2 separate regions of the Homo sapiens genome follow, and region 1 is linked to region 2. The links come from fine-mapping of genetic effects on gene expression. Tissue or cell type: adrenal gland. Region 2 holds a variant in brackets; the other region holds the start of a gene. All regions are shown on one strand. Distances are from middle to middle.

The links. PIP is the estimated chance that this variant, and not a neighbour inherited with it, causes the effect.
Region 1: it holds the start of USP27X-DT, and the variant in region 2 is fine-mapped to the expression of USP27X-DT in adrenal gland (GTEx, PIP above 0.99).

The regions. Positions count from the first base shown.
Region 1 is chrX:49,875,044-49,883,150 of GRCh38, forward strand. USP27X-DT (USP27X divergent transcript) reads right to left here and starts at 4,313. Exons shown (of 2, transcript NR_026742.1): 1 at 4,048-4,313; 2 at 1,681-3,704. USP27X (ubiquitin specific peptidase 27 X-linked) reads left to right here and starts at 4,441. Exons shown (of 1, transcript NM_001145073.3): 1 at 4,441-7,515. The coding sequence starts at 5,265. The coding sequence ends at 6,581. RefSeq lists an enhancer at 1-321 and silencers at 4,263-4,672, 4,713-4,792.
Region 2 is chrX:50,591,015-50,599,121 of GRCh38, forward strand. SHROOM4 (shroom family member 4) reads right to left here. Exons shown (of 9, transcript NM_020717.5): 8 at 7,252-7,521; 9 at 1-5,950. The coding sequence ends at 5,681. Among named protein-coding and RNA genes, the nearest start is that of DGKK, 120 kb to the left of the region's middle. The variant T/C (reference allele first, on the strand shown) is at 3,946.

The DNA.
Region 1 (8,107 bases), 720 kb before region 2:
AAACCATCTCCCCGCCCCTGAAGCCCCCCATCCCTTCCCAACCGCCGTTAAAAAAAAAAAGTCTTCCACAAAACGGGTCCCTGGTGGTGCCAAACAGGTTAGGGATCGCTGCCCTAAACAATAGAGTACGGCAACTATTTACATAGCATCTGCATTGTATCAGGTATGATACAAAAAGTAACCTAGAGATGATTCAAAGTAACCTAGAGATGATTCAAAGTAACCTAGAGATGATTCAAAGTATATGAGGGGCTGTGTATAGGTTATATGCAAATACTACACAACATTTTATATCAGGGACCTGAATCTCTATGGATTTTGGTATCCACAGGGGTCCTGGAACCAATCTCCCACGGATTACCAAGGGACAACTGCATGTATAAAACATGCTTGTATTTGCATAGACAATTTCTTAAAGGCTAAATGTGAAAGTGCTAACAAGTAGTTATCTCAGGGGAATAAAAATGGGTGTGATTGGCGGGGGAGGGAAGAGCTTTAACTTTTCATGTTATGCCTTGTATACCTTGTTATTAAAAAAACACGAATATTGTATATATTACTTTTATAATAATAAATATAAACTAGCAACTTTTAAAGTGGAATGTGCATCACCCTGGAGTACAGGAGTTTTAAGGGGATCAATTTCTATATCCTCAAATTTCCTGTGTAGTCTTTTAAAATTGACCTGCCAGAGAACATACTTGCAGTGTAGGAATCAAACTGGTTCTCTTTTTCTATCTCCCCTTTCACAATGGTCCTTTTTGCACTTTACAAAAGAAAAAGCATATCTTTTACCTATCCTGAATCTTAACCTGGGTGCGCTGCCCTGTGATGTAAAATCCTTGGGGCACAGGAGAGACAATTCCGAACAATGCTGACGATGGTAAACAAACAACTTGCTCTAACAAATGAATGGGGATAAAATCCTTTTGCAACTCAGATGGTTTCCAATTCTTTGCTTCCAGTAGAATTGAAGAAAAAACCTATGAAGTTATCAGCTGATAAATCATGAGAAATAATTTTGAGGATAAATCATTGTGTAATTTCCCCCCATATATCTCCAAAGGAATTCAAAGACTTGCGTGCATTGCTAAAACAAAATGTCCATTCCTATTCACTTATTCATATAAATGAGGTTTCTGTGTGCTAACATTTAACCAAACAAAAAATAGGAAGAGAATTGATGCTGAAGCCTATCTCATTCTAGCAAAAAGCAATGTTTATCCATGGATACACCCATTAATTTTTTTTAAAAAAGCCCTATCTACAATGAACTTTTGTTTTACGTTTAATAATTACCTATCAAAATTTGTAATATATTCACAATGTTTTGATCCATTTTATTCTAATACTAATTGTCATGATAATTCAAACAAGAGCAAATTTTTAAACAACACTTAGAGCCTTATAATCAGAGGAACATTTAAAGAGCATTTAAATTGAAAAATATATACACATTTTTGCTGCAGAGAAATACGATAGGATAATCAAAAACATTTCAAGTGAAAAAACAGACAATTATTGAGACAAAATTCTGTTGGAAAAACAGAATGGAATTAAGAGCTGAGAAAAGGGAAAATGTACAACTTCCAAGTATCAAAGAAGAGCTCAGTTATACATTTTTAAAACAGATGATGGTGGCTCTCAAGTCACTAAGGTATTTAGGTTTCACCGGATTCATGTGAAATAGTGACATAACAGTTTTATTTTTGAATATTAACATTTGTCACAAATTACATTATTTGTAGCCAATTGACATTTGTGATGCAAAATATCAGACATCAACCCAAAAATGTGTGAAGGAGCACACGTTTTTCTTAATATTTTTAGAGAGCATTTTATATAAACCAATAGTTTTATATAAACATACAAAACATATATGAGGAATTGTCATTTACTCTTTTGCCACCTTGTGGTCAGAGTTGGATTTATCACCCAGGTGCATCTACTGCGAAGGAGAGCTGTCTCTCCTAAGGATAGCCCCAACTGCCTGCATTCTGTCAGATCTTTGTGAGGCAGAGATGGTAACATTTGCTAGGATCTGGGTCCAGATCCACATAAGGACAAAGCATCTAAAGATTTTGGTGACACCCTCCACACGTGATTCAAAACAAAAGCATCATGTAATCAGGAAATGAATGTAAGGAAGTACAACAAAGTTCTGATTTTTCCCACGAGGACTACTTAAAAAAAATCAAATGTCAAACTGTTTCTGGTATTTTTTCTTTTTTGATTTTTTGTCTTTGGTGCCTCTTCTCTGCTAGTGACATAGACTTTCCTTAGTGTGCCTTTTGGGGAAGCCATCCCTGATTTCAGTAGCCCTGGAGTAAGTTGGAGTGCTGTGTCCACAGCTCTTGGTACATCTGGCCCTCGGTCAGTGCAGAATAAACATTTGTTGAGTGAATGGTGACAGAGCCCTCCATTTTCAGAACACGCTGGCCTGGGCAGAGTCCAGGTGGACCTATGGGCTTCTGCAGGAAGTTGATCACTAAGTCAACAAGTTACCATGGCTAATCTTCAATGGTAGACAGTCCCAGGTACACAGAGATCTTTAGGTCTTTTTGTTGTCAGTCTGGAGGTGGGATGAGAGTATCCTCCACCCCCTCATCCATGACCTCGGTTGTTTTTAGCAGCAGCAGCAGCAGCAGGATTCCTTCAGTGAGTGTGCTAGTTGCAGTTCCTCTGGTTGCAGGCCACAAAGGGCAGGCATTTATTGAAAGGATGCTGGGGTGCTTCAAGGAATTGAAGCAAGAGCTGACTCAGGAAGGGTAGGGCCCAGGGCAACCCTCAGTTTTATGGGAACCACGCATCCTCCTTTCAAGGGCTCCTGATTCCTGAGGCCCAACTCCTGCTGCTAACCCTAGGAGGCCTCCCCATCCCCTCCCTAGAGGAAGGGGCCAGGTGGAGAGCTGATGTCCAGTGCTGAGCAAGGAGAATGTTGCTAGGGTATGTATACTCAGGCAGCACAGCCACACAAGCCAGACAGCGTGCACTAGGCTACAGCCAGCCACCACCAGGATTAGGGGACTAGACTCTTCCTAGAACACTCTTTCTCCTCCTACTCCTGTCCTGATGCCTGCCCTGGGCTGCACTCTCTGGGACCAGCAGCTACAGCCCGACACCCTCGAGCCATGACCCAGGTCTGAGCCACTTGCTCTGGGCACACTCCTCGTGGGCTCTGGGGTGCTGCTGCCCAGTGCCAGCAGCCCCTTGGCACAGGGGTTCCCAGAGGCCTCTCAGCCTCATGTCCGACTCCCTCTCCCTGCTGGCAGCTCCACAGGCTTCTTTCCACTTCCACCTGCTGCCCCCCTCCCCCGGGATGCTGCCAGGGCTTAAGGGTCTTGGGAGTGTGTCCTGTAGTTTAGGCCCCCTCTCAGCTGTAGGGGAAGTGCCAGCTGTAGGGATGGCCTTGTCGTGCCTCGTCCCTCCAGCTGGCCTTGGAGAGAAGAGGTGGATTGTGCCATCGGGCTGCTCAGCGTCTGCTGGGCCAGGAGGCCGGCTGTCAAGCCATTAACCCACCCGTGGCCTTGGGAGCCCAGGAGGACGCGAGCAGCAGGCCCAGACCCTGCAGAGCGCTGATAAGATGGGCCAGGGACGCGCCTCTCCAGGCCCAGCGGCCTTGGTAGCCCGGCCCCCCCGGAGCTGGGGTCCAGGCCTCCCCAGAACTGCAGCTGGAGCTTCATCCTTTTCGGGAAGCGCAGGACCTGGCGTGGGAAGGGAGACAGGGACGAGGCTAGAGGCAGGCTCGGCCGCCGAAATGATGGCCTGTCACGGCTTCTGCCTGCGCTCCCTAGGACCCCCCTCAGAGGGGACATTTCACAGCCTCAGAAACATTTCTGGACTTGGCACCCGCTCGGCCCCCAGCCCCGCAGTGGCCGAGGGAAGCCTGCATAGACGAGGGGAAGGACGAGGAGAGGGGAGGAGACGATGAAGGGGGTCAGAGCAGCGATTGGAGCCGAGAGCTGGAAGCGCCTTAAAGAGACTGCGCGGTCCCCGCCCCCCTTCCCGCCAGCCTCAATGAATTAGAGCTGTGTTTCCCAAACTTGCCTGATCATAAGCAGCCTCTGGGGCCCTAGTTAGAGATACAGGTTCCGGAGTACCTCCCTTCGAGATTCTGATTCAGTAGGCCTGCGGGTGGAGCCAAGGAATCTGTAATTTTAACACGCTCCCCACGTGATTCTCGTGAACAAGCAAGTTTGGAAAATACTGAATTAAAGGAAACGGGGCCTGGCTGCAGAAGCAGCCTCCACTAGGGGGCTTCGGCGGGAGGATTCCCGGGGGCGTCGCCTGCTTCCGCCGCCGCCTCCTTCAGTGAAAGTCCCTTTTGGGTCCAGCTGCCACAGCCACCGCGCTCCCTCAGGCCGGGCGGGGGACACCCCAGGTCTGCGTGGCCCCCGCGCCGCCACGCCCAGTGGCCGCCCGAGCCCTGCGAGCAGGGGGAGGAGCCGCCGCCAGTGGAGGCGGAGGAGGTAGAGGAGGCGGAGACGGCGGAGAAGGCGGAGAGGAAGGTGGAGGCGGAGGCGAAGGTGGAGGGGAAGGCGGAGGCGGCGGGGAAGGCGGAGGCGGCGGGGAAGGTGGACGCCACCGAGAAGGTGGAGACGGCGGGGAAGGTGGACGCCGCTGGGAAGGTGGAGACGGCGGAGGGTCCGGGCCGCCGGGCTGAGCTCAAGCTGGAGCCCGAACCCGAGCCGGTCCGGGAGGCGGAGCAGGAGCCGAAGCAGGAGCTGGAGGATGAGAACCCAGCGCGGAGCGGCGGTGGCGGCAACAGCGACGAGGTTCCTCCCCCCACCCTTCCCTCCGATCCACCGCGGCCCCCCGATCCCTCTCCGCGTCGCAGTCGTGCGCCGCGCCGCCGACCCCGGCCCCGGCCCCAGACCCGGCTCCGTACCCCGCCGCAGCCTAGGCCCCGGCCCCCGCCCCGGCCCCGGCCCCGGCGCGGCCCTGGGGGCGGATGCCTGGATGTGGATTTTGCCGTGGGGCCACCAGGCTGTTCTCACGTGAACAGCTTTAAGGTGGGAGAGAACTGGAGGCAGGAACTGCGGGTTATCTACCAGTGCTTCGTGTGGTGTGGAACCCCAGAGACCAGGAAAAGCAAGGCAAAGTCCTGCATCTGCCATGTGTGTGGCACCCATCTGAACAGACTCCACTCTTGCCTTTCCTGTGTCTTCTTTGGCTGCTTCACGGAGAAACACATTCACGAGCACGCAGAGACGAAACAACACAACTTAGCAGTAGACCTGTATTACGGAGGTATATACTGCTTTATGTGTAAGGACTATGTATATGACAAAGACATTGAGCAAATTGCCAAAGAAGAGCAAGGAGAAGCTTTGAAATTACAAGCCTCCACCTCAACAGAGGTTTCTCACCAGCAGTGTTCAGTGCCAGGCCTTGGTGAGAAATTCCCAACCTGGGAAACAACCAAACCAGAATTAGAACTGCTGGGGCACAACCCGAGGAGAAGAAGAATCACCTCCAGCTTTACGATCGGTTTAAGAGGACTCATCAATCTTGGCAACACGTGCTTTATGAACTGCATTGTCCAGGCCCTCACCCACACGCCGATACTGAGAGATTTCTTTCTCTCTGACAGGCACCGATGTGAGATGCCGAGTCCCGAGTTGTGTCTGGTCTGTGAGATGTCGTCGCTGTTTCGGGAGTTGTATTCTGGAAACCCGTCTCCTCATGTGCCCTATAAGTTACTGCACCTGGTGTGGATACATGCCCGCCATTTAGCAGGGTACAGGCAACAGGATGCCCACGAGTTCCTCATTGCAGCGTTAGATGTCCTGCACAGGCACTGCAAAGGTGATGATGTCGGGAAGGCGGCCAACAATCCCAACCACTGTAACTGCATCATAGACCAAATCTTCACAGGTGGCCTGCAGTCTGATGTCACCTGTCAAGCCTGCCATGGCGTCTCCACCACGATAGACCCATGCTGGGACATTAGTTTGGACTTGCCTGGCTCTTGCACCTCCTTCTGGCCCATGAGCCCAGGGAGGGAGAGCAGTGTGAACGGGGAAAGCCACATACCAGGAATCACCACCCTCACGGACTGCTTGCGGAGGTTTACGAGGCCAGAGCACTTAGGAAGCAGTGCCAAAATCAAATGTGGTAGTTGCCAAAGCTACCAGGAATCTACCAAACAGCTCACAATGAATAAATTACCTGTCGTTGCCTGTTTTCATTTCAAACGGTTTGAACATTCAGCGAAACAGAGGCGCAAGATCACTACATACATTTCCTTTCCTCTGGAGCTGGATATGACGCCGTTTATGGCCTCAAGTAAAGAGAGCAGAATGAATGGACAATTGCAGCTGCCAACCAATAGTGGAAACAACGAAAATAAGTATTCCTTGTTTGCTGTGGTTAATCACCAAGGAACCTTGGAGAGTGGCCACTATACCAGCTTCATCCGGCACCACAAGGACCAGTGGTTCAAGTGTGATGATGCCGTCATCACTAAGGCCAGTATTAAGGACGTACTGGACAGTGAAGGGTATTTACTGTTCTATCACAAACAGGTGCTAGAACATGAGTCAGAAAAAGTGAAAGAAATGAACACACAAGCCTACTGAAGTGACACACAGACCTACCTGCAATGGAAGATGACGACACCAATACTACAACTGGCATCGAGATCTAAAGGACCTACTTGACCATGGCCCATGGGCCTGACAGAGTAAGAATTGAACAGTACCCAGTGTCCAAAAGGTCCTGATTGGAAGAGAAATAGAAGGGGAGGGAGAAGAGGCTCTAGTCTAAGCAGTTGATGAAAGGGAAATTAAATGGTAGAAACACTCTGGGTGAGGAAGGCAGGAGCAGGAAAATGCTGACACTGGTACATATCCTATATTCCTCCAAAAGATTGTGTGGGAAAGTGTGGGGGGGAGGGGGGTGGTGGGGGGGGAGTGTGCCCTTGTAACCGTAAAACATCTTTCTCCATGGGTGTTTCAGCTTCAATTGACCAATCACATAACAGTTATATGTTTGGGGGGAAAAAGAAAAGTTTCTAAAAAATGTAGCCCATTACATATATGGGTATGAAAGCAGAAAAGTGGAGGAGGCAGGGATATCATTGACAAACACCTTTGCCAGTTTCTTTGTATTCGTGATTTTTTGTGCTATTAAATGCAGTATTAAAACAAGAAAAGCCCACCTGGGCTAGTGAAAGGAGAGGAAATAAGGGGGCTTGTAAAAGGGGAGCCGTCGCTCCAAAAGTAGAGAAGACAAGAAATGCTGTAAGATAAGCAACCAACGCAGACAGGCCTCAGCTAAGAGTATAGTGTGTGTGTGTTAAAAAAAAAAAAAAAAAAAGAAAAAAAAAAGCTGTATGATATACTTGAGCAAATCAATGAACCTCTTTGCGATTGTTTTATCATCTGTAAAATGCAGATAATTCCTACCTTAAAGGGTTATTGTTAAAGATAAAATGATATAAAAATGTGTCAAAGTATAAAGTAAAAGGCTTGGAACTTTGTAGGGACTCAGTAAACGTTTGTTGGATCCAAACCTGAAACTTCTTTGGACCAGGCCCAGAATGCATCAGAGGTGGGGGTCAGTCCTGCCTGAGACCCCTGGACAGAAGGGACACACATCATGTCACATACAGTCACACACACATTCTCCACAACTCCCTCCCCAATGCTGTCTATTTAGAGTACCAAGGCAATGAACTCCACTTTTGTCCCTTGTGTGCAGGGCATCACAGTGGGTGCCACCTGGGATTGGGGGTGGAAAGGACCACAGCTGTCCCATAAGGTCATTATTCTGTCCTTTTGGAGGACAGTCATGTTGCTTTCATGATTCAGATCCCAGTGATGGGACTCTCATGGCCAGTAGGCTGCCAGGCTTGCACACGAGGGAATTTGGTGGTCTTCGTCTTCTAAAAACATTATGGGTTCGGTTGCTATGTTTACTCACAGGCACAGATCAGTAGAAAGACTGTTTTCCAAAGTTCACTGGCCCATCAGCCCAGGGATATTGATAGAGTGGCTTGTTGGCCCCTTCCCTGATACTGTCAGAGGGCAGAGCAGCCTGCAGAGAGCTAAGCCAAAACAGATGGGATGAACCCAGGATGGGGTAAGCACTATGAGTCCTTCTC
Region 2 (8,107 bases):
ACAATGTTTTCTTCTAAGAATTTTATAATTTTGACTCTTACATTCTATAATCCATTTTGAGTTGATTCTTGCATGTGATTTAAGGAAAACTTCATTTTTTCCCATGTAGATACCCAGTTGTCTCAGCATCATTTGTTAAAAAACTATTCTCTCCTCAATTTCTCTTGGGACCCTTGTTGAAATTAACTAACCATATACATGAGGATTTATTTCTGGACTCTCAATTTAATTCCATTTATTTATACACCTACCCTTGTGTCTGTACCACACTGTCTTGATTACTGTAGTTTTGCAGTAAGTTTTGAAGTTGGGATGTATGAGCCCTCCAACTGTTCTTTTTAAAGATTGTTTTGACTGTTCCAGGTCCCTTGTAATTCCATATGAATTTTAGAATCAGCTTGTAAACTTACACAAGGAAGCCACTGGAATTCTGATAAGCACTGGATTGAATCTGTAGATCAATTTGGGGCACATTTCATCTTAACAATACTAAGTCTTCCAATCCATGAACATGGAGTGTCTTTCCATTTATTTTGATCTTCTCTAATCTCTTTCAACAATGTTTTATAGTTTTCAGTGTAAAAGTTTCGCACTTCTTTTGTTAAATTATTCCTAAGTACTTTTTTCTTTTTGATGCTATTGTAAATGGAACTGTTTTCTTTCTTTCTTTCTTTCTTTCTTTTCTTTCTTTCTTTCTTTCTTTCTTTCTTTCTTTCTTTTTGAGACAAAGTCTCACTCTGTTGCCCAGGATGGAGTGCAGTGGTGTGGTCTCAGCTCACTGCAATCTCTGCCTTCCAGGTTCAAGCAATTCTCCTGCCTCAGCCTCCCGAGTAGCTGGGACTACTGGTGCGTGCCACCACACCTGGCTAATTTTTTGTATTTTTAGTAGAGATAGGGTTTCACCGTGTTAGCCAGGATGGTCTTGATCTCCTGACCTCGTGATCCACCTGCCTCGGCCTCCCAAAGTGCTGGGATTTCAGGCGTGAGCCACCATGCCCGGCCGGAACTGTTTTCTTAATAACATTTTCGGATTGTTCATTTGATCTTGTGTTTTAACCTTGTATCCTGCAACTTTCCTAAATTCATCCAGGCAGGTAGTTGTGAGCAACACGAGAAGAGCAAGAATATGCCTGGGATAAGGAAAAAATGAATTGAGTAGATCAGGACTATAATAATGGTTACCATGTACTGAATATGTTTTCAACAAGTCAGTACTTCCCATGCTGTAATATGTTCATGAATCTCCTGGAAATCTAGTTAAAATTCAGACTGCTATCACTGGGTTTGGGGTGGGCCTGGGATTCTGCCTAATAACTTCTTGGATTGTTAGTGGCTTTTATTTATTATTTTCAAGTTACAATAACTGCAAGCAAGATAATACTGTTCCCATTTTACAGATAAGAAAATGACCTCAGAAGTTGAGCTAGTAGCCCAGGTTCATTGAATAAGTGGCAGAACCAGGATTTGAACACAGTTCATTCTAATGCCAAAGCTGGACTCTTTCTACTCTACCACAATGGATATCTTGAGTAGAAGGAGGATAGTTGGAATGTGAACAGAATATGGATCACGAAAAAAGAAAGCTTTTCAATGTCAGAGTTGCTTCCTGGAATACATTTGAGTCTAATCTTTGAGGTTGCCTTGGAGAGCAGATCACCAAGGCCCTTGCTTTCCAGGGAGCTGAGCATGAAGGTGTGAGATTGGACTATCAGCTAGAAGTAAGATGAAAATACTAGACAGAATTCAAGATTGGAAGAAGTCTAGAAAGAATGGCTTACCTTCGATCAGGCTAGACTCCAGAACTAGACTCTGTATACTGCTTAGGTCTATACCTGAGATTACACCTATTGTTGACTTTTTCTGCATTCTAAACATGGGGTTAGACTGGATGTGATGTTGCCACTGAGTAACCAGAGAGGAAGAAATATATCAGTGAGCTAAAGGGCAGGGCTGTGATCCTGAGATCCTTCTGAGTAGAAAAATACCATGCTTCAATACTGTGATAACAACAGAAATAACCAATGGCTTAAACTCTGTACCCCCTACTCAGGATGGTCTTGAAATAGATGTCTAAAAGCTGTTCCCCTAAAAAGGCTATGGCAGATCCTGCTATTTAACTGGGGATGATGAATGGTATAGCATCAATACCATCCCTCAGAGGCCAGGGTAAGGGTTTAGGGATGTGGGTAAGGGTCTGGTCATATGTTTATCTGTGAAGGACTATGGATAGGTGACCAAATTCCTTTCCAGTACTTTTCAGCAGAATCTTTAGACTTCCATCACCTGAGTTAAAACACATGAGATTTTTTTTTGTCCTTAGCACCTTTTATTGAAATATGACCCTTGATGACAATCTGGCAGGCATATCTATGTCAGCCAAGAAGGGAGTGGTGGAGGACACAAATGCAGAAACAACAAGATTTGGAAAAAGAATAGCTTCACATGGGATAGATGACCCCCAACAGCTGTACAACCAACACTGGTTCTTCATCTATAGAAACTGTCCCCTGCCCCACCCCCCCAAAAAGATCTACTAATCTTCAAATAATATAATATGCTGTTGCAGAAATATTATTGGCATAGACGACTCCTCTGGCAAAGCTCCAAATGGGTGGAAGTGGCCAGAAATGGGCCCAGCTTCCTCCATCTGGGGCTTGCTACTGGCAGAGCAGCACTGTCAGGGAGGGTCGGGTTCAGGATGTGGCTCTGGTGTGCCTGGGCAGCTTTATGGCACATGAGGTTAAATGGAAAACAGAACCTGAACCTAACCTTGAAGGAGGCTTTTTATCTTTTCACCTCTCCTTTTCTTTGCTTCCAATTTCTTCCTTTCTAGGGCTTTATTTTCAGTGTCTCTGTCTTATTCTGTCAGATTCTACTTGGGCATTTACAGCTATATCCTGGTTGAGTCTCCAGCTGTGGGACTCAGGAAGATTCAATTATCCAGAGCCCTGGGAGGTGGCAGGAGGGGTTGGGGGGACATGTGATAGTAACTCATGCACTGACTTCTCTATCAGCCATCATGCTTGCCTATTACCCATGGGGGCCTGTATAAGTATTTGACGGGAGACAGCAGAAGTTAAGACTGATAACTGTCTTTGGGGATCTCCCTTGGCCTGCCTTCCAAACTGCTACTCACTGGCAGGCCTTGGAGGAGGGCTGAGCCCAGGAACTGAGAACAGGGGAGAGAGACTGCATCTCAAGTAATACTGGCAGTGTTGCAGCACCGTCACACACAATGAGACTGCCCTGGCAGGAGTGTGGCACGCCAGTGTCTGTTTAGCAGTTCACCTTTATCTACCAAGCTTCACTGCTAGATATACTTTTGGGGTTATTTTTTAAATGCTTTGGCAACTTTCCCTCCATGTGAAAATGAGCATCCTTGTGTTCTGATTCTAACTCTAGAAACTAATTTGAGATGGGATTAAGAACAAAAATAACAGAGTTAATAGTATTTTTGGTGTCATAAACTTAAGGTACAACCAATCACATGCTGACTAGAAAAACTCAAGACTATGGCCATAGTGTCCAGGTAAGTGACCGTTCTTTTCCCTAGGCCCATATTCCCAAAAAGGTGCTCTAGCCCACAAATTCTGAGAATGATGAAACATATCAGCCTCATCCTCCCAATACAGGACATCTCAATTTGCTCATTGTTTGTCCTAGAGCCTGCTCAGAAGAAAAGATGACAACTATGGCCTCCATTGAAAGCACTCCCCTACCTTCTCAATCTTGGCTGGCTTGTGTAAGCCTAGCCCCTGCAAGCCACCAGCCTTCCTGAATAAAGTAGAATCTTCCACTGGAGGGGAGAATGGCAGGGTTGCCATTCTAACAGTGTTTCTGGCAGCAGTACTAAGAGCAAACCCAGAGCTCCACAGAAAGGCTTACCCCACCCCCTACCCCAGGACACCCTGCTGGCCAAGATTCTCCCATTGTTTTCAAATACAA[T/C]GAAGAGGAAATGGAAGCTAGTGACAAGTATTTGTAACAGCAGCAAAAGTTCCTTGGCAAATTCTTTGGTTGAATGAGACATCCCTGCTGCTACAGTTGACCTTCAAGGACCCTGAGGAACTCAGCAGTAACTAGAAGAGATGCCAGGCCTTGGCTGGGTTGTGTGATACCAAGGATTGGCCCCAGTTAGTGAGGAACAGGGAGCTAAGCTGGATAACAGGGCAGCATTTGGCCATAACCCCCTTCTTGCCATCGTCCACCTGAGGGCTGCTTTTCCAGCATAGAAACTAGCTACTGGTGTCAGGGCCTTGGCAACAGCAGCAGTTTTAGTTGTTTGTATGCCTAAGATCCTGGCTGGGTCTTCAATTGCTCTGGGGAGCTGGCTCTGGCTGGAGCTCCCAGCTACCTTGAGTTTTGGTTCCCTTGAGCCAGGCCACAGGCTGAGAAAGCAATGGTTAGAGGAGTTCCTTCTGAGCTCACCTCTACTGATCCCATAGCTTGGAGATGGTAGAGAAATGACTGAACCTTTCTCCATTTCAGGAGATTTCTTTGGTTTCAAAAAGAAATCAGTAAGAAAAACTTAAACCCTGCTGGGGAATGCTAAACTCAAGTCACTTAGACTTTAAGGGAAGCACAAGGCCAGGCCACAGTAGGGAGGCTCTGAGTTCAAGGGGAAAACTCCTTCCTAGACATCGGTAGCTATGGTGGGAACAATTCAACGCCTTGGCACTTGCTTACCTAGCCACGGTGGATTCAGGCTGATCTGCAGAAAATGCTTTCCTTCTGGGCTAACTTTTCCCTCTCCAACTTCCCTCTTCTCGCCTTATTAGTTAAAAAAGAAAAAAATAATCAAAACATAAAAATAAATAAAATCAAAAGGCCATTTAAAATATAACAATAAGAACCCCCTCCCCCAATAATGAAACCTACATCTAGAAGTCAGTTTTAGTAGAGCTATTAATGGCCCATATGGTGAAGCCCTGGGGTAGGCACCTGCGGTAACCCCCAGCAATGTAAAGGAAAGATGAAACAAGAGGTGGTAGGACCAAAGTCTTAGGACAGGAAGAGGGTCACACTAGCCAGGGCTAAGAGTAGGCCTCTTCCCCTGAACTTGCTGCTGGGAAAGGTAAGGGTAGAGCCTATTTAAACCTGGTTCCTTCCTAAGGGGCACCTGGGGGTACTCAACCTTTGCTTGCATTTTTTTCAGTGTAATTCCTCCCTCTGTGCTTTCCCCTGCAAAGCTTGGGTGAGGCCCTGAAACTGGTGCCAGGTGAATGCCCTCAAGGCAGCCAGCTCTCTGTGAGAAATGGCTGGCCACAAGCCCTGGGGCAGAGTAGAGCTGCAAGGCAGATTCCCTCTGAGCCTTTAGAGGCTGTTGATGATATGGGTGGGTGATGAGTACTTGATGTCTTTGGTGTCCTAGTACAAAGCAGAATGAAGGCACTTCCTTGGTTCTCTGTGCAGCAAGTACTTGCCCTTGGCAACTGTGGGAAGGAGAGTGTGGTTCTAAGATCACACCTTGCTGCAGCTCCCTTGGGTAGAAGCTTGTGGCTTCCCCAGGGTCTCCTAGCTGGTTAGGACCACTGCTAGGGAAGGGGTAGTGAGAGACATCCAGGGTAGAGGGCTGGAACAAACTGCTAATTGCTATCTACTTGCTGAGAAACTGCTAACAAAGAAGATTGAAAGCACTTCCCACATGGCTGGGCAGGGATGCTGTGGCAGAGTGCTGGTAGAATTAGAAATTGCTGGGCCCCAGGAGTAGACTCTCCCTGAGACATTTGAGTTGCTCTTCCCCGAGCTTGATCTTCTCCTCCAGCTCTCGCTGTTCAATGATGAGAGCAGATTTCATCTTGACAAAGTGCTGGTAATCTTGGAGCTGGTCCTGAGGCAGGTAGCGGGAGACCATGCCAAACACCAACTTCTCCCGGCGGTCCACGTGCTCCTTCAGCTCCTTGGCATCTGCCAACTGCCCCGTCAGCTGCTGCTTCTTCTCTATCAGTACCAACTGGGGAAGCAGAGGACCAAGTAAGGGCTCTCTCAATTACCAGGCATCTGTCCAACAGTGCTGCCTAGCAGTACTCCACCAGAGATGCTGCCACAAAGCAGCTATACATTCTGCTAATTAGTCAGTCCTAGATTTTCTGCCCTGAAGTCTACCTCCATGCAAAAGCCTTTGTTTCCTGTAGCAGGAGGGTAAACATGACAACAATTCTGGATAGGGGATGTGAAATTACCTCTTTCCATCTCTTTAACGCTGTCTTCAATGTAGGGACCACCACTGGGCTTGGGGTGGAGGAAGGCTCTGACAAAGCCAGCCTGTGTCCCTTTCACCTGGTGAACAACTGTCACTGTGGAGGTGCTTTCTGTATGATGTGTGTGTCTGTGTGAGTGGATATGTGTGAGTGTATGTGTCTGTGTATGTATGTATATGTATGTAGATATGTGCCTCTTGTTGTGGATTCAAAGGTATATCCAAAGCCACCTGTATAGGGAAAGGTGATGCAATTTTGGTTCAGGAGTATATGCATAGTGACCCAACCTGTGAAACTGACAGCTTTCCAATCTCAAATACTTGATGAGACCTCCCCCTCCAACTCTAGAGTGAGGCAAAACTGCTGCTGCTACTACTACTACTGGGAGCTAGCATTGATTCAGTGTTTACCCTGTCCCAGGCCCTGTTTTATGTAATTAACATAAACTAATTTAATTCTCACAATAATCCCATAAGGCAGGTAGTATGCTCACCTCATTTTACAGGTGAAGAGATTGAGGCAGAGTGACGTTATGTAAGTTGTCCACAGTCACACAGCTAATAAATGGTAGGGCAAGAATTTCAGGGCACTTAAAAGCCAGTGTTCACACTCTTATTTTTTTATTTTATTATTATTATTTTTTTTGAGACAGGGTCTTGCTCTGTCACCCAGGCTGGAGTGCAGTGGCACAATCTTTGCTCACGGCAGTCTCCGCCTCCCAAGCTCAAGCAAACCTTCCACCTCAGCCTCCGGAGTAGCTGGGATTATAGGCATGCGCCACCCTGCCAGACTAATTTTTGTATTTTTAGTAGAGATGGGGATTCACTAAGTTGCCCAGGTTGGTCTCAAACTCCTGGACTGAAGCAATCTGCCCGCTTTGGCCTCCCAAAGTACTGGGATTACAGACATGAGCCACCGTGCCCATCCTCAGTGCTCACATGCTTTTAATCCCATGCTCTACTGTTTCCTATAGTAGCCCAACTTGAAAGAGGGAGCCCTGAGAAGAAACAAATGGTATTTCCCTCTACCCACACCCCACAGACCCCAACTCTACCTTCTCCTGGTTGGCCTCTGAATCGATGCTGTTCAGAGCATTCTCCACCCGGGCCAGTCGTCCAGAGAGTGACAGCAACAGGTTGACCACTTTGTCCAGGTCCCCAACAAACAAGTGGTACTTTTCAAATTCATTGGATTTGCAGACGGCTTTTAAGTTGGCCTCCACCTCCTCCCCAAGGGCAGAATTGGCATTGATGTCCTCTAGCAGCCCTCGCTGGGCCTCCCGCAAGACAGAAAGTTTTCTGCTGATGCTTTCGATAAGCTGTATCTAGGGGAATTAAACAGGAGAAGACAAAGGATGAGAATGGGGATCAACAGAAACTGATTTGTGCCTGTAACCTCTGTTTTGGAATCCAAGGAACAGATGGTGGGCTCTATCCTAGTCACTGGAAACAAAGGAAACTTGGGCAAGTCATGAGCAACTCCAGTCTTTTGGGCAAGCACCTTCTATCCGTCTGGTAGGGATCTCCATGTCACCACCAAACTTTTTGGCATTGGGTAAGTGGTATCCATGCACTAAACTTCATTTACCAGATGCAACTTAATAAATACTTGCTGGCACTTTGTTTTTTTTTTGAGATGGAGTCTCACTCTGTTGCCCAGGCTGGAGTGCAGTGGCACGATCTCAGCTCACTGCAACCTCCGCCTCTCAGGTTCAAGCGAGTCTTGCGTCTCGGCCTCCTAAGTAGCTGAGGTTACAGGTGCATGTCATGGATGCCAGGCTAATTTTGTGTGTGTGTTTGTGTGTGTGTGTGTGTGTGTGTGTGTACTTTTAGTAGAGATGGGGTTTCATGATGTTGGCCAGGCTGACCTCAAGTGATCAGCCCCCCTCAGCCTTCCAAAATGCTGGGATC